Regions from separate parts of the Homo sapiens genome. Here regions 1 and 3 are each linked to region 2. Evidence: fine-mapped expression QTL. A gene starts in region 2. Each other region holds a variant in brackets. All regions are shown on one strand. Distances are from middle to middle.

Region 1 (10,678 bases), 150 kb after region 2:
AAGAACACAGCTGGCTGGAAGAAGACAGGGACCAGACTGAACTGCCACCCTCTGCTAGTCCTCATGCAACTCAGTCCCCAGAATGGCTCCACTGGGAGTGGAGGAAGAGCTCAGAGGCCCAGGTGCAGATAGTTCTGCAATTTAGTCTGTAGCCTCCTCGTTCCCTACCCTAAAATTCTAAGGGGAAGGGACCCATAGAGGCTTGCCTGTTTCCGCTACTATATTATGCCCAGTGTTCCTCCTCACCCCACGTCCTGGGGTCAGGCCAGACCATGTTTCGTCAGCCTTGGGGACTAGGCCAGTGTTGGGCACCTCCAGGAGGAGGCCTGACTGGTTCATTACCCTCCCCTACTCAGACTGAGCAGCAGTCCCAGATAACCAAGCAAGCTCAGCTCTGTGGGGGCCTCCTTCAAAAGACCAACATCGCAGACATTAGGAAGCTGTAGGAAGAGAGATCATGGGTTTGACCTCTGCCCACATGGCCATGGAGTCAGCCTCAGCCCTGTCTGTACTGCTCGTCCAGCTAAACGAGCCTGGAATAAACATGCAGTTTATTCAGTCTGCATGTTAGTCACAAAGCAGAGGGTCTGGACACCGTCCCCCAAGGGCATTTCACAGACCAGCCAATGTTTCAAGCCCACCTTAGCCAGGCACAGTAAGGCCTGGTGCATCCTTGGGCACCATCTACAGTAGCCACTGCTGATAAGCAGTCCACCCACCTTCCCCCACAGGCCCTTCATGGAACCCTCGCGTAGTGTTAGCTAGTCTTTCAGGAAGCAGAGAATGGGGCCAGGAATCAAAGTCCCTTGGGTAATGGAAGCATGTCCTAACAGTATGGTGGGTATGAGGCAGTCAGAATCCAGGGTGTGAGCTCCAGCAGATGCTTGGATCACTGTCTACCCCTCAGGGGCTGCTGCTCCCTACCTCACTGACTGCCTTTTTTTTTTTTTTTTTTTTTTTGAGACAGAGTCTCACTCTGTCCCCCAAGCTGGAGTGCAGTGGCGCGATCTCGGCTCACTGCAAGCCCTGCCTCCCAGGTTCACGCCATTCTCCTGCCTCAGCCTCCCGAGTAGCTGGGACTACAGGTGCCCACCACCACGCCCGGCTACCTTTTTGTATTTTTAGTAGAGACAGGGTTTCACCATGTTAGCCAGGATGGTCTCAATCTCCTGACCTTGTGATCTGCCTGCCTCGGCCTCCCAAAGTGCTGGGATTACAGGCATGAGCCACTGGACCCGGCCTGCTTTTCATTGTTTTTTACTTTTTGTTTTGAAATAATTTTAGACTTAGAGAAAGTTGCAGAAATAGTAGAAAATTCCCATGTATCTTTCATCTAGCATCTCCCAATGATTACATCCTACAAAGCCATACTGTAGTTTATCAAAACCAGGAAATTGCCGGGTGTGGTGGCTCATGCCTGTAATTCCAGCACTTTGGGAGGCTGAGGCAGGCAGATTACCTGAGGTCAGGAGTTCGAGACCAGCCTGGCCAACATGGTGAAACCCTGTCTGTACTAAAAATACAAAAATTAGCCAGGCCCGCTGGTGCCCACCTGTAATCCCAGCTACTTGGGAGGCTGAGGCAGGAGAATCACTTGAGCCCAGGAGGCGGAGGTTGCAGTGAGCTGAAATCACGCCACTGCACTCCAGCCTGGGCGACAGAGTGAGACTCCGTCTCAAAAAAAGAAAACCAGGAAGTTAACATTGATAAACTACTACTAACTAATCTACGGACATTCAAATTTTGCCAGTTTTCCCGATGATGTCCTTTGTCTGGTCCAGGGTCCCATATTGCATTTTGTTGTGGTGTTTCCTTCATCTCTGTCAGCCTGTGACAGTTTCTTGGTCTTTATCTTTCATGACCTTGACACTTTGGAAGAGTCCAGGCCAGTTATTTTATAGAATATTCCCCAGTTTTAGTTTGTTTAATGTTTTTACATGATATGATTGAGGATCTGCATTTTTGCCAAGACAACCACAGAAGTGATACTGTGCTATTCTTAGTGCCTCCTAGCGGAGGGTGGTGGTAACTTTTTGTTTTGGTTTTTTTTTTTTTTTTGAGACGGAGTCCCGCTCTGTCACCCAGGATGGAGTGCAGTGGCGCAATCTCGGCTCACTGCAACCTCTGCCTCCTGGGTTCAAAGTGATTCTCCTGCCTCAGCCTCCTGAGTAGCTGGGATTGCAGGTGCCCACCACCACACCCAGCTAATTTTTGTATTTTTAGTAGAGACAGGTTTTCGCCATGTTGGCCAGGCTGGTCTTGAACTCCTGACCTCAGGTGATCCACCCACCTCGGCCTCCCAAAGTGCTGAGATTACAGGCATGAGCCACCACACCTAGACTAGGTGGTGGTAACTTTGATCACATGGCTAAGGTGGTGTGTGCCAGGTTTCTCCACTGTAAAATTAGGAATTTTCCCTTTGAAATTAACAAGAATCTTCCACTTTGAAGCTATGTGAATGTCTTATTCTTAAAATTTTGCCTACTGATTTTCATTTCCATCATCAATGATTCTTGCTTATAACAGGTATTAATGTTATGCTTGCCTAATGGTGACTTTGTTTCATTATTTTACCTGTATTTATTAATTGGTATTCTACTATAAGGAAGAGCTGTCCCTTTTCCCCATTTATTTATTTGATAATTTATATCAGTATGAATGAGTGGATATCTGTTTTATTCTACAGGCTACAATCTAATGCTAACAGTTTATTTGGTTGCTCAAATTGGCTCAGATTTGGCCAGTGAGAACTCATTGAAGTTGGCACTGTGTTGTTTCGACATTGCCCCTGTCACTTTTTAAGCATTTTCTGGCACCACAAGATGTTTCAGGCTTCCTCACATTTTCCCTATCTCAGCCCTGGCATCAGTCATTCTCTAAGAAGCTCCCAGTTCCTTTTATTCCAGAAAAAAGGAACTTAGAAACCAAGTTGTTTCTTGATGCCACTGGAAACCAAGATCTGGACAGAATATATACTCCTGGCTAGAGTATCATTGGCGGAGTGTCATTGCTTGTAGGCCTGCTCAGCAGACAGAGCTAGAAAACATATATGTATATATGTTAAAACATGCAAATACAAGCACCTGAATTTATTATTCTATCCATCTGTATGTTATTAAAAACCGTGAGCCAGGTATGGTGGCTCGTGCCTGTATCCCAGGACTTTGGGAGGCCAAAGTGGGAGGATCACTTGAGCCCAGGAGTTCAAGACCAGCCTGCGCATCATAGCAAGACCTCATCCTCCAAACGTTTAAAAAATAAAAAATTAGCCAGGCATGGTGGTGCATTCCTGTAATCCTAGCTACGTAGGAGGCTGAGGCAGGAGGATCGCTTGAGTTCAGAAGGTTGAGGCTGTAGTGAA[C/T]TGTGATTGTACCACTGCACTGCAGCCTGAGTGACAGAGCAAGACTCCGTTTCATATTTTTAAAAATAAATAAAAATCATGAGTTTAGATACGGTTTTAATTCAATACCATAGGGTTTGCGACTGCCATTTTTATAACCTTACTATTCTTTTTCTGCTTTTTCTCCTGCTATCTCTGTTTCTGCTCCTTTCTATTTGATGTTTAGACTTCCCATAGAGGCTCTAGTTAAGTCAGCTAGTAACCAGCCTGTGTGCAGTATTCCTACTAGATAGAGGTCTTATGCCCGGCTGTCAGTCCGTTGGTTCAGTTAACTGTGGCCAGGAATACTAGGCATATAACTTAAAATCAGATAACTTTTATACAAGAAAAGCCAATGGCCACCTTCCTGAGAATAGGATAAGGAGACAGGGGTAGAACCTTAGATTCTAAGGAACCTAATTAAGAATCACTTCTGGCCGGGCGTGGTGGCTCATGCCTGTAATCCCAACACTCTGGAGGCCATGTAGGGGCAGATCACGAGATCAAGAGATTGAGACCATCCTGACCAACATGGTGAAACCCCATCTCTACTAAAAATACAAAAATTAGCCAGGCGTGGTGGCGGGCGCCTGTAGTCTCAGCTACTCGGGAGGCTGAGGCAGGAGAATCGCTTGAACCCGGGAGGTGGAGGTTGCAGTGAGCCGAAATTGTGCCACTGCACTCCAGCCTGGTGACAGAGCCAGCCTCCGTCTCCAACAAAAACAAACAAAAAAAGAATTACTTCTTCCAGAGATTCTCTGCCAGAACTCCTAGGTGGTGTTGGACCCATATCTTTTACTTCCATAGCATCCCAGGCTCAGCTCACTTGTCCTACTTGTTCTGTGTCTTCATCACTAGAATGTAAGTTCTAAGAGGGCAGATGCCAAGCTGTTCAGCCATTCACAGAACCTGGCACAGTGCAGGCATATGACAGATGTTCCTTTATTATTATACTTGGGTGAGTGGATGGGACCTGCAGCAAGTGCAGATCTTCTCAGTGGGCTCTGGAACAGAAAAGTATTGTTTGTTTGCTCAGCATATTTTTATTTGTCCCATGTTGCTGTGGCCAGGATTTGAGCTCTGAGACAATGCAGCAAGGTGAGACCCAGATTTCTTTTGTTTTGTTTTGTTTTTTGAGACAGAGTCTTGCTCTGTCGCCCAGGCTGGAGTGCGGTGGTGCAATCTTGGCTCACTGCAACCTCCACCTCCAGTTCAAGCAGGTCTCATGCCTCAGCCTCCTCAGTAGCTGGGACTACAGGCATATGCCACCATACCCAGCTAATTTTTTTTGTATTTTTAGTAAAGACGGGGTTTCACCATGTTTGCCAGGCTAGTCTCAAACTCCTGGTCTCAAGTGATCCACCCACCTTGGCCTCCCAGAGTGCTGAGATTACAAGCGTCAACGACTGTACCCGGCCCCAAATTCCTTATTGAGGATCCTAGAATACATGAGACCAGACTTGGAAATGAAAGTGTAACATGTTTATTGTTCAAAAAGAAAAACTCAAAGGTGTGTAGTGATTTTAAAATTTAGGGAAATTCCTCAATATAGTGAAAGAAGAAAAACAAGAAAGAAATTTAGGAAAGAAACACACTTAAACCATAAAAAATAGAAAATGGACCAATAAAGATAAAAGCTAAACTTAACAAGGTAGGAAAAAGAAAAAGAATAAATTAAAAAATTCTTTGAAAGCACCAATAAAATAGATAAAACCTCCTGAGCCTGATAAAAGGGGAAAGGAGCCAAAAAAATTAACAAAATTAGGCATGAGAAATTAGACATAACCATATATATTGAGGAATTGAGAAGAAGAATAGAACTCTATGGCAACAAATTTGAAATCAGAGGAAATGGATAATTTCCCAGCAAACACTGATCCTAGAAATAGTTTGAATAGGCCAGTTGGTTACCCAAGAAGAAACTGGAAAGGTGGTTAAAATTTTATCCTTTTTGAGCACCATAAGATGGTGAAAAATAAATAAAATTTTATCCTTGTAAAAGATTGATGGCCAGGCATGGTGGTGGCCCACACCTGTAATCCTAGCACTTTGGAAGGCCAAGGCAGGCAGATCACTTGAGCCCCGGAGTCTGAGACCAGCCTGGGCAACATGGCAAGACCCCACCTCTACTAAAAATACCAAAATTAGCCAGGCATGATGGTGCTTGCCTGTAGTCAACAGCTACTTGGGAGGCTGAGGTGGGGAAGATGGTTTAAGCCCAGGAGGCAGAGGTTGCAGTGAGCCAAGACTGTGCTGCTGCACTCCAGCCTGGGTGACAGAGCGAGACCATGTCCCAAAAATAAAAAATTGTTTTTAATTAAACTTTTTAATTGAAAAATATATGGGAAATTGTACAAATCACAAGTATGCAGCTCAGTGAATGATTACAAAGTAAACACACTCCTATAGCCATCACTCAACCCCCAAAATAGATGAGTTTTAACTATTATTGTACTCAAACCTGATAAAGTGCCAGAAAGAATGCTATAGCCTAATCTCACCTATGGCCATAGATGCAAAAATCCCAAATAAAATCAAGTTGAATTGCACACTCTGATTACATAAGGTTTATTTTAGCAATGCAAGGCTCAGTGTCAGGAAATTTATTAATTTATTACATCAAGAACTTAAATGTTATTTAAATGTCTAGAGAGTGCTAGTGTTGTTAAATTTTCTCATTTTGATAATTATACTATGATTACAGAAGAGAACGTCCTTGTTTTCAGAAAATGTAAGTATTTAGAGGTTAAAGGTAAACCTCTAATTTGGTTTGCCAGTATTTCAGATAACTACACACACACACACACACACACACACACACACGGAATGATAAAGCAAAAAGTAAGGTGTTGGCAAGGCATGGTGGCTCACACCTGTAATTCCAACACTTTGGGAGGCCCAGGCAGGTGGATCACCTAGGTCTGGAGTTCGAGACCAGCCTGGACAACATGGTGAAACCCCTCTTTATTAAAGTACAAAAATTAGCCGGACATAGTGGCACATGCCGGTAATTCCAGCTATTTGGGAGGCTGAGGCACAGGAATCCCTTGAACCTGGAGGCAGAGGTTGTAGTGAGCCTACATCACACCACTGCACTCCAGCCTGGATGACAGAGTGAGACTGTCTCAAAAACAAACAAAAAAAAGATGTTAACATTTGGGAAATCTGAGGGAATGATGTACATGAATTCTTTGTATTGTTTTTGCAACTTTTAAGTATAAAGTTATTTCAGGCCAGGCATGGTAGTGCATGCCTGTATACCCAGCTACTCGAGGCTGAGGTGGAAGATTCCTTGAGTCTAGGAGTATGAGGTTACAGTGAGCTATGATCATGCCACTGCACTCCAGGCTGGGTGGCAGAGTGACACCCTATCTCTTAAAAAAAAAAAAAAAAAAAAAAACAGGTGCAGTATCTCACACCTGTAATCTCAACAGAACACTGAGGGGTCAAGGCAGGTGGACTGCTTGAGCCCAGGAGTTCAAGACCAGCCTGAGCAACATGGTGAAACCCCATCTCTGCAAAAAATTAGCTGGTTGTGGTGGCATCCACCTGTGGTCTCAGCTACTTGGGAGGCTGAGGTGGGAATATAACTGGAGCTCAGGAGGTGGAGGTTGCTGTGAGATGAGATCGTGCCACTGCACTCCAGCCTATCTCCAAAAAAAAAAAAAAGGCTATAGTAGAAGCCTATTAGCATGGATAAGTGTCTGAATAAAAGATAACTGTACAAAAATCAATTGTTTTTTCTGTATTCTAGCAATAATCAACTAGAAACAGTATCAAAAGAAAAACATTCCATTTACAATTGCAACAAATAGGTATATATATATTTGCTCTTCTACACATAACCTATTTCTGGAAGGGAGCAGAACTGGGCAATTCAGGGACAGCAATGGAAGGGGAACACTGCTATGTTATTTTAAATACTTTTTAGTAAGCTTTGAACCATATTAATGTATTACCTGTTCAAAATTATACTTAATAAATTTAACAAGAAAACCATATTGAAGGGCATAAAAATAAGACCTGACAAGTGAAAAAACATCAAGTTTTAGAAAGGATGATTTAATACTAAAATATACATTTCTTAATATATAACTTAATGTAAACCTAATAAATAATTTAATACAAATCTAATTGACAGCACTTTTAATTAAATAATGTTAAGGTCATACTGCACTACTATGTCCAGAGGCGATGCTACATGGAGCTACTGTTTTCTGGGTCTAGCCTCTCAGGAAATAGTCATTACTACTTTTGCAATCCCATCTTGACAGTATGCAAAAATTAGGGAAAATGTAAATTTATTATTAACACACACCCTAAATACAATTATGAGAGAAAGGAAAGAGAAGGGTTACTGTCTGTGGCTGGAGTATAGTAGCTGTGTATGAGTGTGGAGAAGAGAGGAAATTGGTGGAAAATGAAGCTAGAGAGGCAAGTTTCCTGATTTCAAAGTGCCCTGAATGCCATGCTAAGGGAATGAAATGACCAGATTTGTGTTTTAAAAGACCCTTTGTTTGCATTGTGTAGAATGATTTGGGATGACTTCTGACCAATATACAACAGAGAGTAATTTCAGGCAAACTCTCTTCCACCTCAAACAGAAATATTTAATATATGTAATAAGACAAGAAAGTTTAATACACAACTAGACTTGAAACCAAGAATGGGAAATCCCAGCCATGTACAGTGGCTCATGCCTGTAATCCCAGCACTTTGGGAGGCCAAGGCAGGCAGATCACCTGAGGTCAGGAGTTCAAGTCAGCCTGGCCAACATGGTGAAACCTTATCTCTACTAAAAATACAAAAATTAGCTGGGTGTGGTGGCATGTGCCTATAATCCCACCTACTGGGGAGACTGAGGCAGGAGAATTGCTTGAACCAGGAGGCAGAGGTTGCAGTGAGCTGAGATCACACCACTGCACTCCAGCCTGGGTGACAGAACGAGACTCCGCCTCAAAAAAAAAAAAAAAAATCTTAAAATGTTCAGACATGGAGAGAAGACTAAAAAACATAAAGCAAGAAAGGGCAGTAAGAAAAAATAGTAGGTATATTTGAAAAAGAGGCTTCATTCTGAGTGATTTTCTCAGATTAATTTTCGTCTTTTATGCATTTCTACAATTTTTTCTAGTGTTGTGGTCCTAATTGACTTAGATATTAGATACTAGGAGTAATAAGGACTCATATTCTTAAAGGAGGAAGATTTGGGTCATCCACTGGACAACAAACCATAGTGGTCTAAGGCAGTGACACAGGACAAGGGGAATATGGAATGGTCAGGGAGGGCAGTCACCAGTGTGACCCTCCAGAGTCATGATCAGTTGCAGAGATAAGGAATATAGCCTCAACCACAATCCTGAAACCATTAGCCCACCATCCTCTTAAGAGTCTTCAAGTCTAATACCATCCCTCACAGATTCGTTATAGTAATCCCAAGAAGTCTGACCCTAACCTCAGTGGTCATCTACCACCACATCATCACATACTGCTTCCCTCTCCAGCCTTTCCACTGTGTCCTCCAGCACTTCCTTTCTAAAATCGGTAGATTCTTTTCTATATGCACCTTGTATTTGGAATATTTGCTTCACTTCTTCATCTTAACTGTCCCCTAAAGACACAGCTTACTCTGGCTGTCCCCTAAGACTGCTTACCTGTAGCCCTCTTAGGCAGAGGCTGCTTTCATTGTTAGACCCAGAAGTGAGCCTCCACTGCTCCTCCTCAATTAGTTCTCATCCTTCCTCTCAGCTCTTTTGAATTCATCAGTTCGACTATACCAGCCTTTCTCTAATTGTCCTGCCTACTGATCTCCCAATCACTGTGTCACAGGGAAGATTTTAGTACCTGTGTCACTTTCTCTCTTCCCCAGCACATGCCATCATTCTTGGTGGCTTCAACCTTCCATGAATGACCTAAAGCCCTGCTCTCCTCACATTTAGTGGTCTTTTTTCTGCCCCTGCCCACCTAAATCACCTATGTTATGGTCACAGTCTAAATTTCATCACAAGTAATTAAACTTCCTCCGAAGCCCCTATCCCTCTCTAGCCAATTATCTTTCATCTTCCAGTTCACTTATATGAACTGGAGTACATTCTGTGTGTAATTCTGTGACCTTATTGATACTTCTAGTCCATTAACCCCAACCTTCTTATTGCCCATCTGATCCCTCTTTCTCCAAGTCCACTTAAATCTCAGGGCCCATCATTATAATCTCTCTCTTCCAAATATTCTCAGAATCTTCAGACTTAACCCAACAACAATATAGATCTTCCCAAACCTGTATTTTCAAAAAAAACTTCACGCTACGTAATGCCACCTATCCCTTGCACAGAGCAATTTACTCTTACAAAGATAAACATAGCAAAGTCTCATCAGTTGCTACAACTTGTTCCATATCAAGGATCTCTGTGTGATGAGCATTCTTCCTCTGGTTCTATCATAACCCTATTTAGATATATTTTAACCTGTGGGCAAAATTGAGAAGTCAACCAACACAATCTACATAAAATACTAGGGCAAAGCGAGGAAAAGGAAGGAAAAAAGAGAAAAAAGTATGGCAGATTAAGCACTATATAGTATGCTCCCCACCTTAGACACCCCCCACACACACAAAAAAAAAGAGTAAAATAATTTTTTAAAAGGTAAATACCCAGAGGATTCTGGGAAGATGCCAGAGTAGGAAGCATCAGGAATCTGTCTCCCCACCCAGACAATTACAGTGGCAGAATTTGTCTGATGTAACTATTTTGGAGCTCTGGAGTCTATTGGAGTTCTGCGACTTCCCAGGGAAGGCTTAGATGATAAATTGTGGTTAATTTTGTTCAATTTCAACTCTTAGCACAGTAACAACTACCCATCCCCCACCTCCCAGCCCCATGGCAGGCAGCTGTGCACGTGTTCCTAGAACAGCTGGAATGCAGCTTCCAGGAGCCAGGAGGGGCAAAAGGACCCTGTCTTTCAAATACTTAGGATCTGTGCTCTGATTGCTACTTCTGATCACAGGCATAAAAAGAGGCAGAGACCATTATTCTTATACCTCCTCCCATTGTAGCAAGCCCCTCTGGCTGAAGTGCTGTCTAGGATTAATGTGCTTGCACCCTTCCCTCCCTCTTCATTTTTCTCTTTTACTTCCTGTTGGTAGCCAGACATTTAAGACTAGGATATTCAAAAGCAATTGCATATACTGGGAAATTTAGAAAGTAATCATAATGTCTTAGAGAAGATGCAGAGTTAGTAATTTTTGTATTTTTAGTAGAGATGGGGTTTCACCATGTTGGCCAGGCTGGGCTCAAACCCATGACC
Region 2 (10,678 bases):
CACTCTTGAGTACAGGCAGAACCTGTGAATGTGATGGGATATCACTCCTGTGATAACATTACTTATCGGTTCACTTTGACTTATCAAAAGAGAGATTATCTGGGTGGGCCTGATCTAATCAGGTGAGCCCTTTAAAATAACCAGGCCCTTCCTGAAGTCAGAGAAGCTTGCTTGCAAGTATGAGAGAATCTAAGGAAGTGGTTACATGGCAAAGACCCAAGAGTTTTTTCCAGGAGCTGAGAGGTTCTCAGCTGCTGCTGGCTAGCAATACAGCCTCAGTCCCACAGCTGCTAGGAAATGATTTCAACCAACAGTGTAAGGCAGCTTGAAAAACTACCTTTGCCTGGTGGGCATGGTGGCTTATGCCTGTAATCCCAGCACTGTGGGAGGCCAAGATGGGTGGATCACCTGAGGTCAGAAGTTCGAGACCAACCTGTCCAACATGGTGAAACCCTGTCTCTACTAAAAATACAAAAACATTAGCTGGGTGTGGTGGCGTGCACCTGTAATCCCAGCTACTTGGGAAGCTGAGGTAGCAGAATCATTTGAACCTGGGAGGTGGAGGTTGCAGTGAGCTCAGATTGCACCACTGCACTCCAGCCTGGACAACAAGAGTGAAACTCCATCTCAAAAAACAAAAAGAAAAACTACCTTTCCCTAATTGAGCCTCCAGATGTGAATGCAGCTGGCCGACACCTTGATTTCAGACCCAGAGCAGAGCATAGTTAGAATATGCTAGACTCCAGACCCATAGAAACTGTGAGATATTAGATGGCAATTGTTTTAAGCTGCTCAGTTTATGGTGCTTTGTTTTGCAGCAATAGAAAACTAATACAAATAATAATATAAATCAGTTATCTGTAGAATATCCCTCAATATGTGTTTGTCTGATGTTTTCTCATGTTTGGAATGAGGTTATATATGCTTGATGAGAATGAACAAAAACGATGTGTTCTTCCCAGTGCATCATATCAAGGGATTCATTTTGTCTGTTGTGTATATGTCTTATTACTGGTGATATTTACCTTTGATCATGTAGTTAAATTGGTGTCTGCCAGGTTTTCCCCACTGTAAAGTTTTTGTAGTTCATAATTATCTTGCAGGAAGTACTTTTTTTTTTGAGAGGAAGTCTCACTCTGTTGCCCAGGCTGGAGTGCAGTGGCGCAATCTCGGCTCACTGCAACCTCCACCCCCCGGGTTCAAGTGATTCTCCTGCCTCAGCCTTCCGAGTAGCTGGGATTACAGGCGCCTGCCAGCACGCCTGGCTAATTTTTGTATTTTTAGTAGAGACAGGGTTTTACCATCTTGGCCAGGCTGGTCTTGAACTCCTGACCTTGTGATCCACCTGCCTCAGCCTCCCAAAGTGCTGGGATTACAGGCGTGAGCCACCGTGCCCGGCTGCAGGAAGTACTTTTGAGACTATATAAATTCTGTTTCTCCTCCTTGTCACCCACTAATTTTAGTATCATCTATGGATCTTGCCTGAAATGTTTATTTTTATTTATGTTTTTAGAGACAGGGTCTTGCTCTGTCACCCAGGCTGGAGCACTGTGGTGCGATGAAGGCTTGCTGCAGCCTTGACCTCCTCGCCTCAAGCAATCCTTCCGCCTCGGCCTCCCAAGTAGCTGGGACAACAGGTGTGTGCCACCCTGCTCTGCTAATTTTTTTATTTTATATTTTTGTATAGACAGGGTCTCACTTTGTCGCCCAGGCTGGTCTCAAACTCCTGGCCTCGAGTGATCCTCCTACTGCCTTGGCCTCACAAAGTGCTGGGATTACAGGCATTAGTCACTACATGAGTCACTGTGCCCAGCCTGAAATTTGTATTACTCCAGTGTCTGCCTAGTGGTAATTCTCTATTTCTCTCTTTCTTCTACATTTATTGATTGAACTTCCACTGTAAGAAAGAGCTGCCTCGGGCCAGGCGTGGTGGTTCACGCCTATAATCCCAGCACTTTGGGAGGCCGAGGCGGGCAGATGACAAGGTCAGGAGATCGAGACCATCCTGGCTAACACAGTGAAACCCCGTCTCTACTAAAAATACAACAAAAAAAAAAATTAGCCGGGCATGGTGGCGGGCGCCTGTAGTCCCAGCTGGAGGCTGAGGCAGGAGAATGGTGTGAACCCGGGAGGCAGAGCTTTCAGTGAGCCGAGATCGCGCCACTGCACTCCAGCCTGGGCAACAGAGCGAGACTCCGTCTCAAAAAAAAAGAAAGAAAGAAAGCTGCCTCTTCCCTCATTCCTCCCCTATTTATCTATTTATTTATTTGATTATTTATATCATATTTGTTTTACTCTGTGGATCAAAACCCCATATGGTCATTACTTTTCAGTTAAATTGTTCCTACTTAGGTCATTATGAACTCCTTCACACTGGCTCCTGTGTTCTTTTCACAAGCCTGCATCTGGTTTTGAGCCTTTCCTAACTTCCTGGCACATACGATGTTGTTGACTCATTTTGGATTTTCTCTGCCCAGTCCTGAAAACAACCATTCTCCAAGGGTAACTGGTTTCTGGGTTATTGGAGAATGCTGTTTATGTCTGGGTGTTAGGTGTGTTCAATTTTTAGGGTGTAATTGCTTCTAGACCCTCCCAGAGGCTAGGTAATATATGTAATACACGAACCCATACATACTTACATATTTATATTTCTGTATTGATCTGTCTGTATCTATTTTTAAAAACCATGAGTTTTACAGCTGGGCATGGTGGCTCTAACCTGTAATCCTAGCACTTTGGGAGGCTGAGACAGGCAGATCATTTGAGGTCAGGAGTTTGTGACCAGCCTGGCCAACGTGGCAAAACCATATGGTCAATAACCAATTGAGACCAATCAGGCTGGTTCGAGACCAGTCTGGCCAACATGGCGAAACCCTGTCTCTACTAAAAATACAAAAGTTAGCTGGGCGGTGGTACATTGCTGTAATCCCAGCTACTCAGGAGGCTGAGGCAGGAGAATCACTTGAACCTGGGAGACGGAGGCTGCAGTGACCAAGATCGCGCCACTGCATTCCAGCCTGGATGACAGAGCAAGACTCCGTCTCAAAAATAAATAAAGTAAAAATAAAATTAAAGCCATGAGTTTATGCTGATACATCTGATTCCAATTCAATACCACAAGGTTCATTTTAGCTTTCTTTTTTTCCCTATTTATAACTTCTTTCTCCAACAGTGAAAAGCCCAGCTACTATCTATTTACTTATTTGTTTAAAAATGTGTGTGTGTGTTGTTGTTTTGTTTTCTTTTTCTGGAAAAGTTTTTCTCAGAAACCTATAGAATGTGTAGCACCAAATGGCCTCCAACTCCATGCCAGAGGCAGCTGACCACAGCAACTGCATTGATTCTTCACTTTCTGTCTCCTCCTAAACCCCATTCAGATATCCCCCAGTCACCTTCCTACAAACTAAAACTGGAGTTCTCTCTCTCCCAACCCAACAGTTAGAAGCTTAGGGCCAAGGTGGGGTCATTGGAACCTGATATAAATTTTTGCTTTCTGAGCAGACCAAAAGGAAGCCATCCTGCGTTGAAAATCTGTTAAAATGTGACCTAAGAGTTTTTTGTGTGTTTGTTTGTTTTTTGAGACGGAGTCGCCCCGTCGCCCAGGCTGGAGTGCAATGGCGCGATCTTGGCTCACTGCAACCTCCGCCTCCTGGGTTCAAGTAATTCTCCTGCCTCAGCCTCCTGAGTAGCTGGGATTACAGGCGTGTGCCACCACGCCCAGCTAATTTTTTGGATCTTTAGTAGAGACGGGGTTTCACCATGTTAGCCAGGCTGGTCTCGAACTCCTGACCTCAAATGATCCTTCCAACTCGGCCTCCCAAAGTGCTGGGATTATAGGCATTAGCCACTGTGCCTGGCCCTGGATTGGTTATTGACCATACAGAATTCACTCTGAGTCCCAGCTGATTCTAATGGGTGGGGTTTTTTTGTTTGTTTTAATTTTAGTTTATTTTTCTTTTTTTTGGAGACAGGGTCTCACTCTGTTGCCTAGACTGAAGTGCAGTAGTGTGGGGATCCTCCTGCCACAGCCTCCTGAGTAGCTAGAACTACAGGTGTACACCCCCATGCCTGGCTAATTTTTTATTTTTTGCAGAGACTGTGATCTCACCATGTTGCCCAGGCTGGTCTCAAACTCCTGCCCCAAGTGTTGGGATTACAGGCACGTGAGCAAGCACACACGACCCTAATGGGTGTTTCCATACTTCCTCACTACATCCCCCACTCAGAGATTGATAATTTAAGCTTTTCAGTATCCCTACCAAATACTGATAGTAATTAAACCCTTCCTTGAACCCCTCGCAGATGGTATCTGTGAAAATAAAATAAGAAAATCAATGGGGAAGTGCTTTGAAAATTATGCATTGCTAAGTAAACTGAAGGGCCCTGGGATGTGTCTGCAGTGAGAGGGTTTGAACTCTGCATCTGGTAATGGGAGCTTTCGGAGACTGCTCTTCCTGCTGTGACCACCCTAAGTTGGGAGACAGAAATGTTTCAAGAATACAGGGAAGGTGAAGTTGCTATAGTGAATGGGGTGGTTAACAAAATAATATGTGCTGAAAATCTCTCAAAACAGAAAGGTCAAAATGCTTTCATTATTGAGTGCTTTAAAAATGATTTAAAAATAGTTATTCAAGGCTGGGCACGGTGGCTCACGCCTGTAATCCCAGCACTCTGGGAGGCCAAGGCAGGTGGATCATCTGAGGTTGGGAGTTTGAGACCAGCCTGACCAACATGTAAAACCCCGTCTCTACTAAAAATACAAAAAAAATTAGCCAGGTGTGGTGACACATGCCTGTAATCCTAGCTACTCGGGAGGCTGAGGCAAGAAAAGCGCTTGAACCTGGGAGGCGGAGGTTGCGGTGAGTCAAGATCGCGCCATTGCACTCCAGCCTGGGCAACAAGAGCAAAACTCCATCTCAAAAAAAAAAAAAAGTTATTAAAGCCAGGCGCAGTGGCTCACGCCTGTAATCCCAGCACTTTAGGAGGCTGAGGCAGGAGGACTGCTTGAGCCCAGGAGTTCAGACCAGCTTGGGCATCATAGCGAGACCTAGTCTCTACCCAAATAATAATAATAATAATAATAACAAAAAATTAGCTAGGTGTAGTGGTGCCAGCTGTGGTCCCAGCTACTCAGGAGGCTGAGGTGGTGGGATGATCCCTTGAGCCCAGGAGGTTTCAGGTTGCAGTAACAACTGTACTCCAGCCTGTGTAACAGAGCGTGACCCTGTCTCAAAAAAAACCAAAAAAGTCGCTCATTCATTCCTGTCTTACTAACGGATGTGGAAATGAGAAGTTCCATCTTTGCCTGGAGGAAGTGTAGAATACACAGAGCAGAGAATATACAATGATAGCTACCATTTCTTGAAGACCTACTGTGAGCCAGGGACAGTGTTAGGGGCTTTCTACATATTATCTTATTTAATACAAGCAATCATCTTGAAGGCAGGAATTGATATCTTCAACAATGAGTAATTAACTACCAGAGAGGTAAAGGGAGTTTGTCCAAGGTCACCCATATAAATGCAAGAGTCAAAATTAAAATCCACGTCTGCCTGAATGCCAAAGCTCAAGTACTCTCCAACACTAATAAGGTGAGAGTAATCCATTCACTGAAAAAAATATTTGAGTGCCTCAGGCCGGGCGCGGTGGCTCACACCTGTAATCCCAGCACTTTAGGAGGCCGAGGCAGGTGGATCACGAGGTCAGGAGATCGAGACCATCCTGACTAATACAGTGAAACCCCGTCTCTACTAAAAATACAAAAAAATTAGCCGAGCATGGTGGCGGGAGCCTGTAGTCCCAGCTACTCGGGAGGCTGAGGCAGAAGAATGGCGTGAACACAGGAGGCTGAGCTTGCAGTGAGCTGAGATCGTGCCACTGCACTGCAGCCTGGGCGACAGAGCAAGACTCTGCTTCAATAAATAAATAAATACATAAAAATAAAAAAACTGAGTGCCTCTTTTGTTCCAGACATTGTTCTGAGTGCTAGTGATATAAAAGTGAAAAAACAAAGTCCTTGTCTCATGGGGCTCATGCTGTAGTGGAGAAAGACAATAAAAATGTAGTATGTCAGATGGTGATAAATGCTGTGAAGGAAAATTAGGATGGGGTGCGTAGGATTACTATTTTAACCAGAATGGTCAGGGAAGACTCTGATCATGTGAAGTCTGAGCAGACGTACAAGACTTGGAAGAAACAGAACTGGCACAAAGAAGAACTTCCTCCTTTGCCTACCTATGGGTTCAGTTTGGAAAAGAGGGGGCGGGATGGGAGTGCAGGTGTTAATGGAAACTATATGCTCAAAATCAGAAGACCTGAGCATTACTTTACTCCAGGTGATTTACTGGCAAATCTTTTCACCTTTGAGCCTCAATTCCCTTCACTGTAGACGGGAATAACAGTTCTTGCCCAGCTTCTCACACACAGCTGCCATGAGGATCAGATGAGATGACCCACTTGAAAGCCCTTTAAAAATAACACAATCAGGGCCAGGCGCAGTGGCTCACGCCAGTAATCCCAGTACTTAGGGAGGCTGAGGCAGGTGGGTCGCTTGAGGTCAGGAGTTGGAGACCAGCCTGGCCAACATGGTGAAACCCCGTCTCTACTACTAAAAATACAAAAATTAGCCAAGCGTGGTGGTGCGTGCCTGTAATCCCAGCTACTCGGTAGGCTGAGGTGGGAGAATCGCTTGGACCAGGGAGACGGAGGTTGCAGTGAGCCGAGATGGCGCCACTGCACTCCAGTTTGGGCGGCAGAGTGAGATTCTGTCTCAAAAAAAAAAAAAAAAAAAAGACCGGAAGTCAACTCTTCAAATAAAATGTATTCCTATCTCAGGTGCAGTAGTTACCCTAAACATCTTTTTGAAAGGCCGCCCAGGCTGAAAAAAGAGATAGGCTAAACTAAATAAGCATAAGTTTCATAATATGCCTCTGCTGAAGATTCTTGGGTAATTTACACCAGTCAAAAATTGTGGGCCGGGCGCGGTGGCTCACGCTTGTAACCCCAGCATTTTGGGAGGCCGAGGCGGGCGGATCGCCTGAGGTCAGGAGTTAGAGACCAGCCTGGCCAACGTGGTGAAACCCCGTTTCCACTAAAAATACAAAAATTAGCTGGGCATGGTGGCGGGCGCCTGTAATCCCAGCTACTCGGGAGACTGAGGTAGGAGAATTGCTTGAACACAGGAGACGAAGGTTGCAGTGAGCCGAGATCGCGCCACGGCACTCCGGCCTGTGAGACAGAGCGAGACTCCGTCTCAAAAAAAAAAAAAAAAAAAAAGTGTGTCGTGTGCTTCAACTAAACTAGGAAAGAAGTCTTGGGATTCTAATCTTTAACTCTAATCGCCACGCCCCTTCACCCGAACTCTATTTCCCAATATGCCCCGGGCTTCTATAATCCCGCAGTCATTGTGACGCAATCCCACAGCCTTCTGGGAAACGTAGTTTATTTATTCTCCAGCTGGGGAAAGGCTTAGGGCTGTGGACTACCTCTCCCGTGAGGTAGTGCGCAACTCCACCCTGTTCGCGGCGTCTTCGAACGCGCCGCGGCAGCCATGTTGGACGTGGTCAGCACAGGGGCCGGCACCACGGGGTTATCGAAGCAGCTGTCAAGATGCTGGGGTCCCTGGTGTTGAGGAGAAAAGCACTGGCGCCACGGCTACTCCTCCGGCTGCTCAGGTCCCCAACGCTCCGGGGCCATGGAGGTGCTTCCGGCCGGAATGTGACTACTGGGAGTCTCGGGGAGCCGCAGTGGCTGAGGGTAGCCACCGGGGGGCGCCCTGGAACATCGCCGGCCTTGTTCTCCGGACGTGGGGCAGCCACCGGGGGGCGCCAGGGAGGACGCTTCGATACCAAATGCCTCGCGGCTGCCACTTGGGGACGCCTTCCTGGTCCCGAAGAAACACTCCCAGGACAGGACAGCTGGAACGGGGTCCCCAGCAGGGCCGGACTGGGCATGTGCGCCCTGGCCGCAGCGCTGGTGGTTCATTGCTACAGCAAGAGTCCGTCCAACAAGGGTGATTATGAGATCTGGGTTTGAGGAAGGGAGAGGCGGGAAGATTGTCCTAACTTCGTATCTTAGGAGGGTGGGAGGTACTTATAGGTTTAGATCCTTAGAGCCTAAGTCTTGGAGGGACTCAGACATCATCTGGTTACAGGGGCAGGGTGTTGCCCTAGAGACCTCATCACCTCGGAGTTGTATAATCTCGTACCATAGATCCGCTTCCCCTCTCTGGGCATCATTTTATCCATCTGTACAATGGGGATATTGGACTAAACATCTAATATTATAGCATGGTCCCCTTATGTTTCTCATATTCTGCCTGGTCCAATTCCTCTTTCCTGAGATCTCCAGGAAACGGAAATTATGGGGTGTTTTAAGGGCAACCGCCAGATGGTTTAGAGAAGTTGCCAAACCGCTCCCCCCTACCCCCCGCCACCAAAGGTGCCAGAGTCAGGAACAACCTGACTCGGTTCTAATGCCAGCTTGACCTCAATTTATTTATTTATTTATTTATTTATTTATTTATTTATTTATTTATTTATTTCTGAGATGGAGTCTTGCTCTGTCGCCAAGCTGGAGTGCAGTGGCGCAATCTCGGCCCACTGCAACCTCCGCCTCCCGGGTTCAAGCTATTCTCCTGCCTTAGCCTCCCAAGTAGCTGGGACTACAGGTGCGGGCCACCACACCCAGCTAATTTTTGTATTTTTAGTTGTTGGTCAGGATGGTCTCGATCTCTTGACCTCCTGATCCACCCGCCTTGGCCTCCCAAAGTACTGGGATTACAGGCGTGAGCCACCGCGTCTGACCAATTTCTTTATTTATATAGTGAAGGATAGTTTCCCAACATTTTTACAGTACTGTTATTTTGACTCTTTTTGGAGTTCAGCGGCCTGAGTCTGTCAGTCTCAGGATTTTGCTGTGTCTGGTCTCACATGCTGTGAGGTGATCTTGCCATGTGGGATAGTTGGCAGGAGAAGGAAGGTGGATTCCTGGAGGCCCAAGGGCAACTGCTGGGGGACTGGCTGATCCCGATTAGCATCTCATTTGGATCCGGGGAGCTAAGCAGCAGCTGAGAGAGTGGACAGAGAGCCAGACTGATGACCTATGTGAGTCCAGCCATTCAGGTTCTTAGTTGTTCCTCAAGAAGAAAGACTGAGGCATGGTGTCCATAGATTCCATGCACCCCAAGCTCTGAGAATTTGGAGCAAGAGTTGGGGAGTAGGGAGTGCCTTGACTTTGATTCGTTTGATGTGGCCAATTGTAAAGGAAGGACTTTGGTCTGGGAGAGACAACACTGGGGATCTTGTTTTGGTTCTGTGTCTAACTCTCATTGTGAATTTGGACTTTTGCTTCTCCTCACGGGTCCTCTGTTTCCTCATCTACAAAATGAGGGTTTTGAAATAGACACTAAGGGCATCGAGCTTAGGCATGTTGTAATCCTATAACTTCCAGCATTTTTGGGGGTACCCACTGTGTGTCTAGTTTTAGGCTAGGTGTGTGGGAAGTCCTAACTTAACACAAAATCAGTCAAGGGGACAGTGCAGGCAGTTGGAATGTAGGGCTGGTGAGTGGTGCTATGTGTCGTTGGGGGATCAGAGGGCCAGTAGGGTCAGGAAAGCCTTTCTGGAGTATTGGAGACCCCAGAGGATGGGAAATTTGAACTTGAGTTCTGAAGGATGAAGTAGAAACGGAAAGGGGAGTGATCTTTTGAGCCCCATGAGAGCAGGAAATGTATCTTCTCTTTTGTTTTTTCAGGTTATACTAGCAACTTTCCCGAATACCTAGACATCATTTGCCCACCACAGTGTCTGGAACTTAGTAGGTGCTCAGTAAATGTGTGAGAGTTGGATTATATTCCATGCAAAGGCTTCAGGGAATGGAAATAACAGTTTCGGGGCACCATGGTGTGTGCAGGGGCCAGCAGAGCAGCCAGCTTGGTTGGAGGATAAGGTCTTTGGAATTAGATGAGAGCAGATGGAGTGGGGCCTGGATGCCAGTCAGGGGTGGGGTAGGTGAGGGTGTTGGAATTTCTTCTGTAGGCAGTGGAGAGTTATGGAAGGTTCATGAGCAGGGAATGTTCTGAGTCCAGTGTATTTGGTGAGGTCTTGCCTAAGAAGTTCCTGGGGGTTCCCAACTGGACTTTATGGCCTATGAACTCCAGCAAGAATACCAGGGTCTATTTACCAAAATAGATAATGGTCAAAGCCGTGACCAGTTCCTGCTGGAACTGACTTGCCAGCTACCCTGTCCCCTGACTTAGAGTTTTGACCCTCAGTGCAGTGTGGTAGAAACTGAACCCTTTTAGAAGCCAGGAGGCCCTGGTTCTTAGCTCATTCCTCACTCTGTAACCTTGTAGAAGCCACATTTTTTTCTGCAGAGTGAAGGGAGAGTGGATATAGCCATCTCTAAGGAAGGCTTGATCCCCTCCCAGCTGGTGGCTGTCTGAGCCATGCTTGGGTATGTGCTTTAGGTACATCCGGTAAGGTAAGTAGAAAGGACCTGTCCCTGGAATCTAGGCCAGGAGGCATCAATGTCTGAACCACAGGACTGGCTTTCATATGCATGATAAGGTGTATTGTACAGATAAGGAAACTAAGGCTCAGGAGGTTAGATAGGTGGGCTAGGTTATACAGCAAATAAGCGACAGAGCTGGGCTAGACCCCAGGTCTGACTGTCTCCA
Region 3 (10,678 bases), 190 kb after region 2:
TCTGAACCAAAAGATTAGTGTGTGATGGCTGCAAAGAAAGCCAAGAACAGGGGGAGGCAGGCTGGAGCGCTAGCACTGAGGACGTGGCGTGCCAGCAAGAGCTTGGACTTGATCATGAGGGCAATGGAGAGCCATGGGAGGGTCTGAGAGCAGTGATCCCATCTGATTTCCCAATTCTGAGATCCCTTGGACTCCCTGTAGAGTATATATTGAGGGGGAGAGGTGCACCTCACACACCAGGAGGGATAACTTTTTGAAGCAGTTGAGCTGTCAGGTCTCAATCTCTACAAGTTTAGACCTAAAAAGTCATTTGAGAAAAACAGAAAATAGCAAGTGTTGGCAAGGATGTGTCAAAATTGGAATACGGATGCATTGCTGGTGAGAATGTAAAATGGAAAAGCCTCTGTGGAAAACATTGTGGCAGTTCCTTGAAAAACAAAAAGAGAATTACTGTATGATCCAGGAATTCCACTTCTGGGTATATATTGAAAAGAATTGAAAGCAGATACAAATATGTTAGGCAGATATGTGTACACCCATGTTCATAGCAGCATTATTCACAACAGCTAAAATGTGGAAGCAACCCGAATGTCCACGGATGGATGGATGGATAAGGAAATGGGATATATAAAAGGAGTTATGCCAAAAAGACAAATACTGGGCTGAGTGTGGAGGCTCACACCTGTAATTCCAATACTCTGGGAGGCTGAGGTGGGAGGATCGCTTGAGCCCAGAAGGTTGAGGCAGCAGTGAGCTATGATCCCACCTCTGCACTGCAGCCTGGGTGACAGAGTAAGAGTATCTCAAAAATAAGTAAGTAAACAGACAAATACTGTATGATTCCACTTATACGAGGTCCCTGGTCAAAATAACAGAGACCAGCCTGGGCAACATAGTGAGACCCCCATCTCTACAGAAGATTTAAAAATTAGCTAGGCATGGTGGTGTGCACGTGTAGTCCCAGCTACTCAGGACGCTGAGGCGGGAGGATCGCCTGAGCCAAGGAATGCAAGACTGCACCATGATCTCGTTGCTGTACTCCAGCCTGAGTGACAGAGTGAAAGACTGTCTGAAAAAAAAAAACACAAAATCATAGGGACAGAAAGAGGAATGGCGGTTTGCAGGTAGGATGGGGAAATGGAAGGTGTTGTTTAACGGGTAGAGTTTTGATTTTACAGGATTCAAAGAGTTATGGAGATGGATGTATTAATACATAAATATGAATGTATTTACTACCACAGAACTATAGCTCAAAGTGGCTAAGATGGTAAATTTTATGTTATGTGTATTTTGCCACAATAAAAACATTTGACAAGAGGTAATTTGAGAAACCTCAAAGAAATCCCCTGGCATGGAGTGGTTCCGGAGATTGGGGATAGAGAGTCCTCCTGGGAAGCCCAGAACGGATGATGGGGGAAGGATTACCTGAGGAGAGGCGCACTCCCCTCTGTCCTGACAAACTTGGGGAGAATTCCAGGAGTCCTTCTATCAACCCCCAAGGACTTCAGCTGGAAACAAAGACACGCCCTTCCCGCGGCTTCTCCATGGGTCTAGGACTCCCCATCTACAAGACCTGCCAAGATCGGTGGAAGAGGCTGGGGGTTGAGTGGACGAGCTGCCCAACCCAGCTCAGGAGCGACGGAAAAGTTATCTGTTCCCTTCTCTTGGTAAGGATTCTGAATGTGTCCCGCTGTCCCACAGCACGAGGGAGCTGGTGACTGAATCTGTGCAGGGATGTCTGGGCCAGGTGCAGACTGAGTCTAGGTGGTTTCCCTGGAGAAAAAAAGCGGGGGGCCCTGGAGAACAGGGGTAAGAGACTGAAGAACAATAAAGAGGTCACGGGGTACGTTCCCTTTCTGACATCCATCGCATCCTGAGCCCAAGGTCACAGGAGAGGGTCGCATACTGCAGATGGAGCTGAGGGAACGGGGGGAGAGGCAGGCGGGCCCTGAAGGTGCAAGGTCGTGTGGGCCTCGGGACAAGTCAGGGTAGAGGGACCTGGCTCCCACGACCCTCCCTCTCCGCAGCCCCGTGGAGGCCGCACCCCAGAGCCTCCAGCATCATCCCTGGGCCCCTCTGCGCTCCAGCCCTCGTGTCTAAGCTCCCCGGAGGCGTTTTCTCTCCGCTCTCAGCCTCTGCTCCCGCGCTTGTGGCTGTCCCTGGCCCTGTCTCTCTCAGACTGTCCCTGGGCATATGTGTCTGTCTCACGATTCCTGCCTCTGTTTTGTCTCATCCCTCCCTTGCTCTCCACCGCAGTCCTGGTTGCCGTCCATGTCTCATCCCGACCCCTTCTGTCTCCATGCCTCCCTCACTCTCTTTCTCGTCCCCCTGTCTCCCTGTCTCCTCTTGTCTCTCTCTTAACCTCATCTCCTGTCTCTGCCCTGTCCCCGCTCCATCCTGTCTCTCTCTTACCCTCATCTCCTGTCTCTGCCCTGTCCCCGCTCCATCCTGTCTTTCGCTGTGTATGTTCCGTCCTTGTCTCCCTCTGTGTACCTGTATCTCTTGTCCCTGTCTCCATCACTGTTTCTGCCCCTTTCTCTCCCGGTCTCTGTTTCCTCTGTCTATCCACGTCCCTTCCCTGTCCCCATCCCAGGCTCCGTCTCTTCCCGGTCTCCATCCCCCTTCCTGGGCCGCCTCCGCAGTCTCCGCCGGGATGGGACCTCGCTGGGGGCGGGGCTGAGGGGCCAGATCGGAATAACTCGGTTATCAGAGCGAATTGAATTAACTTCTTCACACGAGCGCCGCCAGGCCTGCCTCCCCTCCCTTCCGCGGGGCCGCAGGTGGGGAGGCCCGGGAAAAGGGTCGGGACCCTCTGGCCTCGGACGCTGTGTAGAGACCGAAGGTCTGGTCCGGATTGGGGCAGGATAGGGACTCCGGGGATAGGGTCCCGCGCATCCCAGCTCCACACCTCTGAGCCCTAAGACGGCGGCGGGGACCCTTCGGGGTGGGGGTCGGGGCGGCTTTGGGCGGTGTCTGGGCCTCCTAGGCCCCGCCCCTTCGGAGCTCGCCCCGCCCCGCCCCCCTCCGCGGGGTCCTGCGCGTTAAAAGGCGCGCGGGCCGGGCTGGCTGCACTTGCGTTGCACCCGGGCTGAGTGCGGCCGCGACGGGGCGGGCGGACTCTCGGGCGCTCAGAGCTGGCCTCGGGTCCTCGGAGCCTGGCGCTCGAACCTCCCTTCCGACCTCCACCCGGACCCCGACCCCGACCCGGCCTGGCCCGGCCCCCGCCCCCGCCCCCCGGGCCGATGGACTACTCCTACCTCAATTCGTACGACTCGTGCGTGGCGGCCATGGAGGCGTCCGCCTACGGCGACTTTGGCGCCTGCAGCCAGCCCGGCGGCTTCCAATACAGCCCCCTGCGGCCCGCTTTCCCCGCGGCAGGGCCGCCCTGCCCCGCGCTCGGCTCCTCCAACTGCGCACTTGGCGCCCTACGCGACCACCAGCCCGCGCCCTACTCGGCAGGTGAGCGCAGCCCCGGCCCAACCCTCCCTCCAATTCCTGCAGAATCCCTGGGCCCGCTCGCCAAGTGAATGCGACTGTCCCCCTCAGCCGCCCCCATTCCTGCCTTGGCCAGACCCTCCAATGCCCCGAGAGACCCCCAGAATACGAGGTTCTCCTCCGCAGGAATGAGCCTCACCCTCTCATCTCTCCTGTTCCTTTTTCTCGTTGCCAAATCTCTGTCTCGTGCCCTTCAGGTCAAGGAAATATATCCCCATCCAGCTCTGGGCCCCTTACCAGGCCTTCCCCTCACCACCTGCAAAGACTGACCACTAAACCTCTACAAGCGCTGGATCTTTGAAAAAGGCTCCCAGCCCAGCCCTATCACCACTTATCACCCCACCCCATCACCGCTGCCCCACGAGATGCATGACCCCCAGCAAGGACCTCTCCAGGCAGCTGAGCTGCCCAGACGGGAAGCTTCCTAGAGCTCGCGTGGCCATCAGGCCCCTCCTGCCCTGTCTTGGACCCACGCTGCCTGGGACCGAACCCTTCTGTAGCCACCAAAACCAGATCCCGTAGCCCGCAATAAAGGGGCCCGGGTTTTTAAGCCACTTGTATTTCCCCATTCCCCCAGACTCTCCCAGCTAGAGTTCTGTAGAACCCGGAAGCAGCTCCTGCATCCCCAAGACTTTAGATCCAAGTCCCTGTCCAAACCCTCAACCTCACTGAGCTTCTCAGTCATCTCAGCCCTCTGATTAGAGTCCCAGCCTGCCCTATGTAATCTTATCGCCTTCCCTCCTGGGAAGACTGCCGGGGACCCAAGTAGAAGACTGGGGCCTAAGGGCCAGGCGCGGTGGCTCATGCCTGTAATCCCAGCACTTTGGGAGGCCAAGGCGGGTGGATCACTTGAGGTCAAGAGTTCAAGACCAGCCTAACCAACATGGTGAAACCCCATCTCCATTAAAAATACAAAAAAAAAAAAAA[AT/T]TAGCTGGGCATGGTGGCCCACGCCTGTAATCCCAGCTACTTGGGAGTCTGAGGCAGGAGAATCGCTTGAACCTGGGAGGCAGAGGTTGCAGTGAGCTGAGACTGTGCCATTGCATTCCAGCCTGGGTGACAGAATGAGACTCGGTCTCAAAAAAAAAAGAAGAAGAAGAAGAAGAAGACTGGGCCCTAGGCTGGGGTTTGGGGAAGAGATACGAGAAATGAGAACCTGGATTTGGAGAAATGAGGCCCAGGGTGGGGAGATTGGGTACCCTGAGCCAGATGAGGGTAGGGATTGGGAAGAGGGGAGACAGCCTCCAGAGATACAGGGTTTTGAGACCAGAGAGATGGGGATAAGGTACAGAGAGATGGGAGCAGAGATGGAAGCACTGGAAATCCTAGGAGAAATGGGGACTCAGGGTTGGGGAGATAGAGATAAGTATCAGGCGATGGGGACCAAAGAAGATTAGAAATAGAGATGACGAAGATAAGAATACAAATGGGGTGCTGGAGACAAGAATCAGGGGAGATGGAGGCCTGGATGGGACAAAGATGAGATTGGAGACCCCTGGTGAATATGAAGACTTAAACCAGGGTTACAGACAGGGAAGGGAAGTACTGTCAGAAACACTACCTATGGGGCAGTGGAGACTGGGATGGGTATAGGAAGAGAGTTGGGGGGCAGTGTTGGCTTTGGAGGAGATGGGACATGGAGAAGGTGCCTGGGGAGGAAGAAGGAGGGCAAAGAGAAGATGGAGGAAGTCTTCTCAATGGGCGCAAAGAGAAGATGGAGGAAGTCTTCTCAATGGGCACAAAGAGAAGAGTGGCTGAGAAATGGAAAGTTGAAGAGAGATTCAAATGGAGGAAGATTAGGAAGAGGAGAGGGGGACATCTAGGGGAGAATGGGGGTCAGGGGAGTGGGGCAGAATTGAAGAAATGAGGCTTGGGAAGGGGAGAGGTGGATGGGTGGAGGGAGCCAAATCTGTATACAGCTGAGAGCCGGTGGGAAGGCTGGTGGTAGGGCTGAAAGGAGGGCCGGTGGGAGGGTCTCTGTTGCAGAGCCTTGGCCCAGAACTGGTTAGTGGGAAGACTGGCAATGCTGATGAGACCTGACAGACATCCAGGGCCAGGGTAGACAGAGGGGACAGACGGGCTGAGAGACAGACAGGAGGGAAGGGTCGGAGGCACGGTTGAATGGGGGTGCAGGGGGAGATGGAGGGAACAGGGCTTGGGAGGAGGGCGACGACGGGGGTGGGGTGGGGGAGGGAGTGTCTTGGCTGGAGTATTGGATTATGCTTTCCCCTTGGCCGCTCTTGGGGCTCAGGTCTCCCTGATCTCCCTCCGCCTTTATCCCGCCGGCTCCATTGAGTAATAGGGAGGACGCTCGGCCCCAGGCTGCCGGGACCAAGACGAGGGATCAGGCCAGGGACGGGGGAGGCGTGTGATTCCCCCGGAGCTGGACACAACGGGTTGAACTCTGCTTCTCACTCCCCCATCCTTTTTGCCCCCCCCCCGGCCCCCCTGCACACACCCGCAGTGCCCTACAAGTTCTTCCCAGAGCCATCCGGCCTGCACGAGAAGCGCAAGCAGCGGCGCATCCGCACCACGTTCACCAGCGCGCAGCTCAAGGAGCTGGAGCGCGTTTTCGCTGAGACCCACTACCCCGACATTTACACGCGTGAGGAGCTGGCGCTCAAGATCGACCTCACTGAGGCTCGCGTGCAGGTGCGTGTATGCACGTGTGTGTACGAGAGTGCGCATGGAAGGAGGTGTGGGAGCTTAATGTCTAACACCTGGGGGTAGGGGAATACAGGCAGATGCAGCCCGAAGGCAGGGCGCGGTCCCAGGGTGCTTGGGCAGCTACGGGAGGCAGCAGGGCCCGGACTTGGAGGCCCTTGGGAGACCCGATCTGTTTAGCTCCAGGCTACCTCCGCTCTGTCTCCCTCTTAGGGCAGAAAGTTCCGAGTGATGCTTGAGAAGCCAGGAGGGAGGCCGAGGGGCTAGAGGGGGAGACCCAGGGGACCTCAGGGCCGAGCTGAGGAGGAGAGGGGGCAGGCCAGTCAGCACCCCTGGGGTTCCCTACCCCGGCGCTGCAGCTTTGAAAACCCGGAGCCCGGGAGGCTGAGTTTGTGGCAGGCACAGGGCCGAAGAGAGCCGGGCTAGAGCAGACTGTTGTCTATTTGTACAACTCCGTGTACAGATGTTCAGTTGGCCCGCCTTGACTGGATGCCCTAGACAAAAGGTTTACTGGCGCCCTAAACTGCTCTCCACGGCCCTGGAACACTCCAGGAGGGAAGTCCCAGAGCTTCCTAAAAGAAGGAATTGGGGGAAGAACTTAGAGTGAGGAGAACGAAGGCAGGGTCCCCTCCGGGAGACCAAGAGTGCTGGGAGGCAGCAGAGTCAGCGGGTGAGTGGATCCCAAGGGCAAGAACCCAGGGATCTGGAGGCAGGGGCCAGTGGAGCGCGGAGTGCAGCGGGCTGCGTGCGGAGGGCCGAAGGCCCCTCCAACTAGTAAGAACCCGGGCCCGGTTCTTTCCGAACCAGGATCTCACTCGAGCCTTGCGGCCGCGGGCTGACCCCGTGCGTTCTCCGACCCTCGTCCAGGCTGACTGGCCCCTGTGCCCGCAGGTCTGGTTCCAGAACCGCCGGGCCAAGTTCCGCAAACAGGAGCGCGCGGCCAGCGCCAAGGGCGCGGCGGGCGCGGCGGGCGCCAAAAAGGGCGAGGCGCGCTGCTCCTCCGAGGACGACGATTCCAAGGAGTCCACGTGCAGCCCCACGCCCGATAGCACCGCCTCGCTGCCGCCGCCGCCTGCGCCCGGCCTGGCCAGCCCGCGCCTGAGCCCCAGCCCGCTGCCCGTCGCACTGGGCTCCGGGCCGGGACCTGGGCCGGGGCCACAGCCGCTCAAGGGCGCACTGTGGGCCGGTGTGGCGGGCGGTGGGGGCGGCGGGCCTGGCGCGGGAGCGGCCGAACTACTTAAGGCTTGGCAGCCGGCGGAGTCCGGCCCCGGGCCCTTCTCCGGGGTTCTGTCCTCCTTTCACCGGAAGCCCGGCCCCGCCCTGAAGACCAATCTCTTCTAGCTGCCGGCCTCTGGAGGCTCCGAGCCTGCCCCCAGAGACGTCCCTGCCCCTCCAGGACCTGACAGCCCCTCCCATCCTGGCCACCCGCCTGGAAGTCCCCATCCGTCTCCACTCCCTACTGTCTCACCCCTCGGTGTGTCCTCCCCAACTTTGGAGACCAAGTCAGGGCCACTCTCGTCCTCACCCACCCTCTACCAGCAGAGCGGAGTTCTTTATACCGGGACCTCCTCCAGGAGAACCCCGGAGCTCCTTCTAGCTTGGCCTTCTTTGGATGCGGTATCACATGAGGCCTGTCCCTAACAGTGCCCTCAAAGTGAAGGTCCTCAAGGAGGATCGGCACAGCCCCCTTCCCTGGCTCTGCAGCGGCTGGGTCACCCCTTACGCTGGTGATCAGGAAAGCCCGCTGCCCCACCCCTCGGGCCCACCCGTACAGAGGCTGGTGGTCGCCGGGATAATTAATGACCACCGCCAATTCATCCCTCACGTGTCTCCTCTCTTCCCTAGCCCGTCTGGCACAGAGGGTGGACCTGTTAGAGGAGTGGAGGGGCTGCCTGGGGAATGGGACAGAGGGATTCTCTTTCCCTAATTTTTTTGGTTGTCCTTTTTCTTTGAAAAACTTGTAATTTATTGAAGTTTTACTCAATCCAAATAAAACTTAATTTATTGAAGACATCACGCCGCAACCCTTACGACTGCCCAGGAGGCTGCTTGCAAGACCCTGTCCCGGGCTGAGACCTGCGAGGAACCTCCCTCCCCCACCCTGCCGCCGTGCATCCCCAGAGCAGGGCAGCACAGACCAGGAGACAGTGAGAACTAAGCAAACTGGCACTTTATGGCTGAGATCCTGCCCCACCCCAACCAACCCCAATAATATTAAGGTGCTCTCCCTCCCCAGACCCACACAGAACAGTTTAAATAAACCCCAGCCCGGTCCTCGGGCTATTCCTTCATTTCCGGACGGACACCCGCCCCCACCCCCAGCGGGGGTGGGGAGGTCTTAGCGGAGCTCCTCCGCTGTGGTTCAGGCCCGGTGGAAGGCCGCAGAAACTGGTGAAAGTGGGGGCCCAGACGTACCCAAATGGACCCCCACAGGCACCCCTGGGGCTGGGAGGCGGGGTCCAGTAAAACAGGACAGCACCAGAGTAACCAGGGTCCTCGGTAACCATGGCAACTGACCTTCCGTCCTGAGCCTAAAAGGCGAGGGGCAGGATGCCCTAATTAGGGCATTGCAAATGATTGGGCAGCGGGGAATGCAGATCCCCAATAAATAGGCACCCCAATAAATAGGCAGAGAGATACTGCCCTGACCCTCATAACTTTTCAACCCTGGGGCCATAGCTGGGCCTTGGTAGCAGGGAGGGGCTCTGAGTTCACAGCTTCGTGGTGCCTCCGCTATCACTTGCTGAGCTGCAGGGTGTCCAGAAGGAGGCGCTTGTGAGCCGGGTCCTGCACCCCAGCCTCCTCCAAGTCCTCCTCGGTGATGTCACTGTGGAGTAAAACAGGCTGGGAAGTGAGATGGGCAAGGGGATCCTGAGGGCCCCAGCTCCGCCCCCGGGGCCAGCCCCTCCCCCACCTGAGAAACTCCAGGTCGTCCCAGCCATTATGCACCAGGCCCTCCTCATAGCGCTCCAAGCCGATGGCCCGCAGCCAGGCACTCATGCCTGCCTCGCCCAGCCCGCTGGCCCGCCCGCCCTGCAGGCACGGAGCCTAAGGAAACAGGGCATGTCAGGGGGAGCTGAGTGCCCCCCATAGAAACACCTGCAGTCACATTCTGCTGCATGCTCTGGGGAAAAGGAAGGGAAGGGCTGGGCTGATACATGTGTCTCCCAACTTCCCAGTGATCAGTTCAGGGTAGCAGGGACACCATGAGTGCTGAATGGTGGAGTGAAAGGGTACCAGTCTGTGGGCAAGCACACTCAGGCACACACAGACAGCCACCCTGCTCCACACACCTCCTCTGCCAGGTCTTCCTGGATGCTCTCCCGGATGCGGGGTGGAGGGAAGCTGAGGGGCCGGCCATAGTCCGAGGGCAGTCCCCGGGGGGGCTGCAGCTCCAGGGGGCCTGGGAGGAGCGCTGAGCGTGCAGGCCCAGCAGGGGCATAGTCCACCTCGCTCAGCGTCTTGGCCATCTGCAGCACCGAGCAGGACCGGTCATCCCCACTGGCCACTTCCCCCAGGAAAGTGCTGGCTGGTGAGGGGCCTGGGGGCAGTGGAGGCCTTGGATGGGCCTTGGGAGGTGGTGGGCCACGGGCCTCAGCCCCACCACGGCCCCGGACCACTGGCCCTGGTAAAGGATCCAGGCTGGGGGGCAGGAAGATGGCTGAGTCCGGCAGTGGTGGAGGTGGAAAGTCTGGAGGGGGCAGTGTGCCTCCAGACTCCTCATCTGAAGAACTCCCCTCTCCCACACGAGGGTGCCGGTGGTGCCCAAGCTGTGGAGCAGGCACTGTAATGGCCACTTTGTTCTTGGTGGCAGATGGGACAGGGGCCCTGGCAGGCGAGGGTGGCTCCGGGGGCAGCAGCTGGTGCGGGACCCCTTCAAGGACGTAGTAGGCAGGGTTATTGAAGCTGTTCTTGGGTGGGGGGGCCGCCACCCCTTCTGGTTCAGGAGCTCCCTCTGGCTTCAACCTGGGTGTGGAAGCAGAACGACTAAGCCAGGATCCAGGAACCCAGGTCTAAGGCAGTGGAAGCAGTGGAAGGAGAACTAGACGGGAGTCAGAAAGTCCCCTGGTCCTAGACTTTCTCATGACCTTGAGCACATCACCTGCCCTTAGTTTCTTCATCTCTAAAGGTCAGAGGGAGGATAACCCTTTGAATGGATAACCCTACAATCCCTTGCCTCACTTGCTAAGATACTTAGATCTTTCATGACTTTATCTGTAGCTGTGAAACCCAAGCTAAATGGGTCAGAATAGAGGTGCCAGAAGACAGGGCAAGAAGCCTCCAATGAGAGGCCAGGTTTGGAAAGCCTCTTGAGGCACCCACAGTCAATCCGCTGCAGAATCTTTCTCAGAGATTCAGGTGGGTCTTATTCAAGCCTAGGGATAAAACCGGGGTGACTGACAACAGCTGAAGATGAGTGAAAAAGCACCAAACTGTACCTAGGAGTTTATGTAAGTTTAAGCAACAATCGGATATAATTAGAAAGCAAGCCTCACTTTCCCAAAGTGTGACACAGAGCAC

The links.
Region 1: its variant is fine-mapped to the expression of CLPB in whole blood (TOPMed, PIP 0.96).
Region 3: its variant is fine-mapped to the expression of CLPB in whole blood (INTERVAL, PIP 0.95).

Annotation. Positions count from the first base shown.
Region 1 is chr11:72,282,325-72,293,002 of GRCh38, reverse strand. It overlaps CLPB (ClpB family mitochondrial disaggregase), which reads left to right. Exons shown (of 16, transcript NM_001258392.3): 16 at 1-7,508. Among named protein-coding and RNA genes, the nearest start is that of PHOX2A, 43 kb to the right of the region's middle. The variant C/T (reference allele first, on the strand shown) is at 3,362.
Region 2 is chr11:72,431,405-72,442,082 of GRCh38, reverse strand. CLPB (ClpB family mitochondrial disaggregase) reads left to right here and starts at 7,552. Exons shown (of 16, transcript NM_001258392.3): 1 at 7,552-8,011. The coding sequence starts at 7,609. RefSeq lists a silencer at 5,140-5,189 and enhancers at 6,601-7,407, 7,471-7,930.
Region 3 is chr11:72,236,569-72,247,246 of GRCh38, reverse strand. It overlaps PHOX2A (paired like homeobox 2A), which reads left to right and starts at 3,071. Exons shown (of 3, transcript NM_005169.4): 1 at 3,071-3,459; 2 at 5,958-6,145; 3 at 7,049-8,170. The coding sequence starts at 3,243. The coding sequence ends at 7,498. INPPL1 (inositol polyphosphate phosphatase like 1) reads right to left here. Exons shown (of 28, transcript NM_001567.4): 26 at 9,451-10,123; 27 at 9,072-9,205; 28 at 8,100-8,984. The coding sequence ends at 8,894. RefSeq lists a silencer at 7,199-7,368. The variant AT/T (reference allele first, on the strand shown) is at 4,423.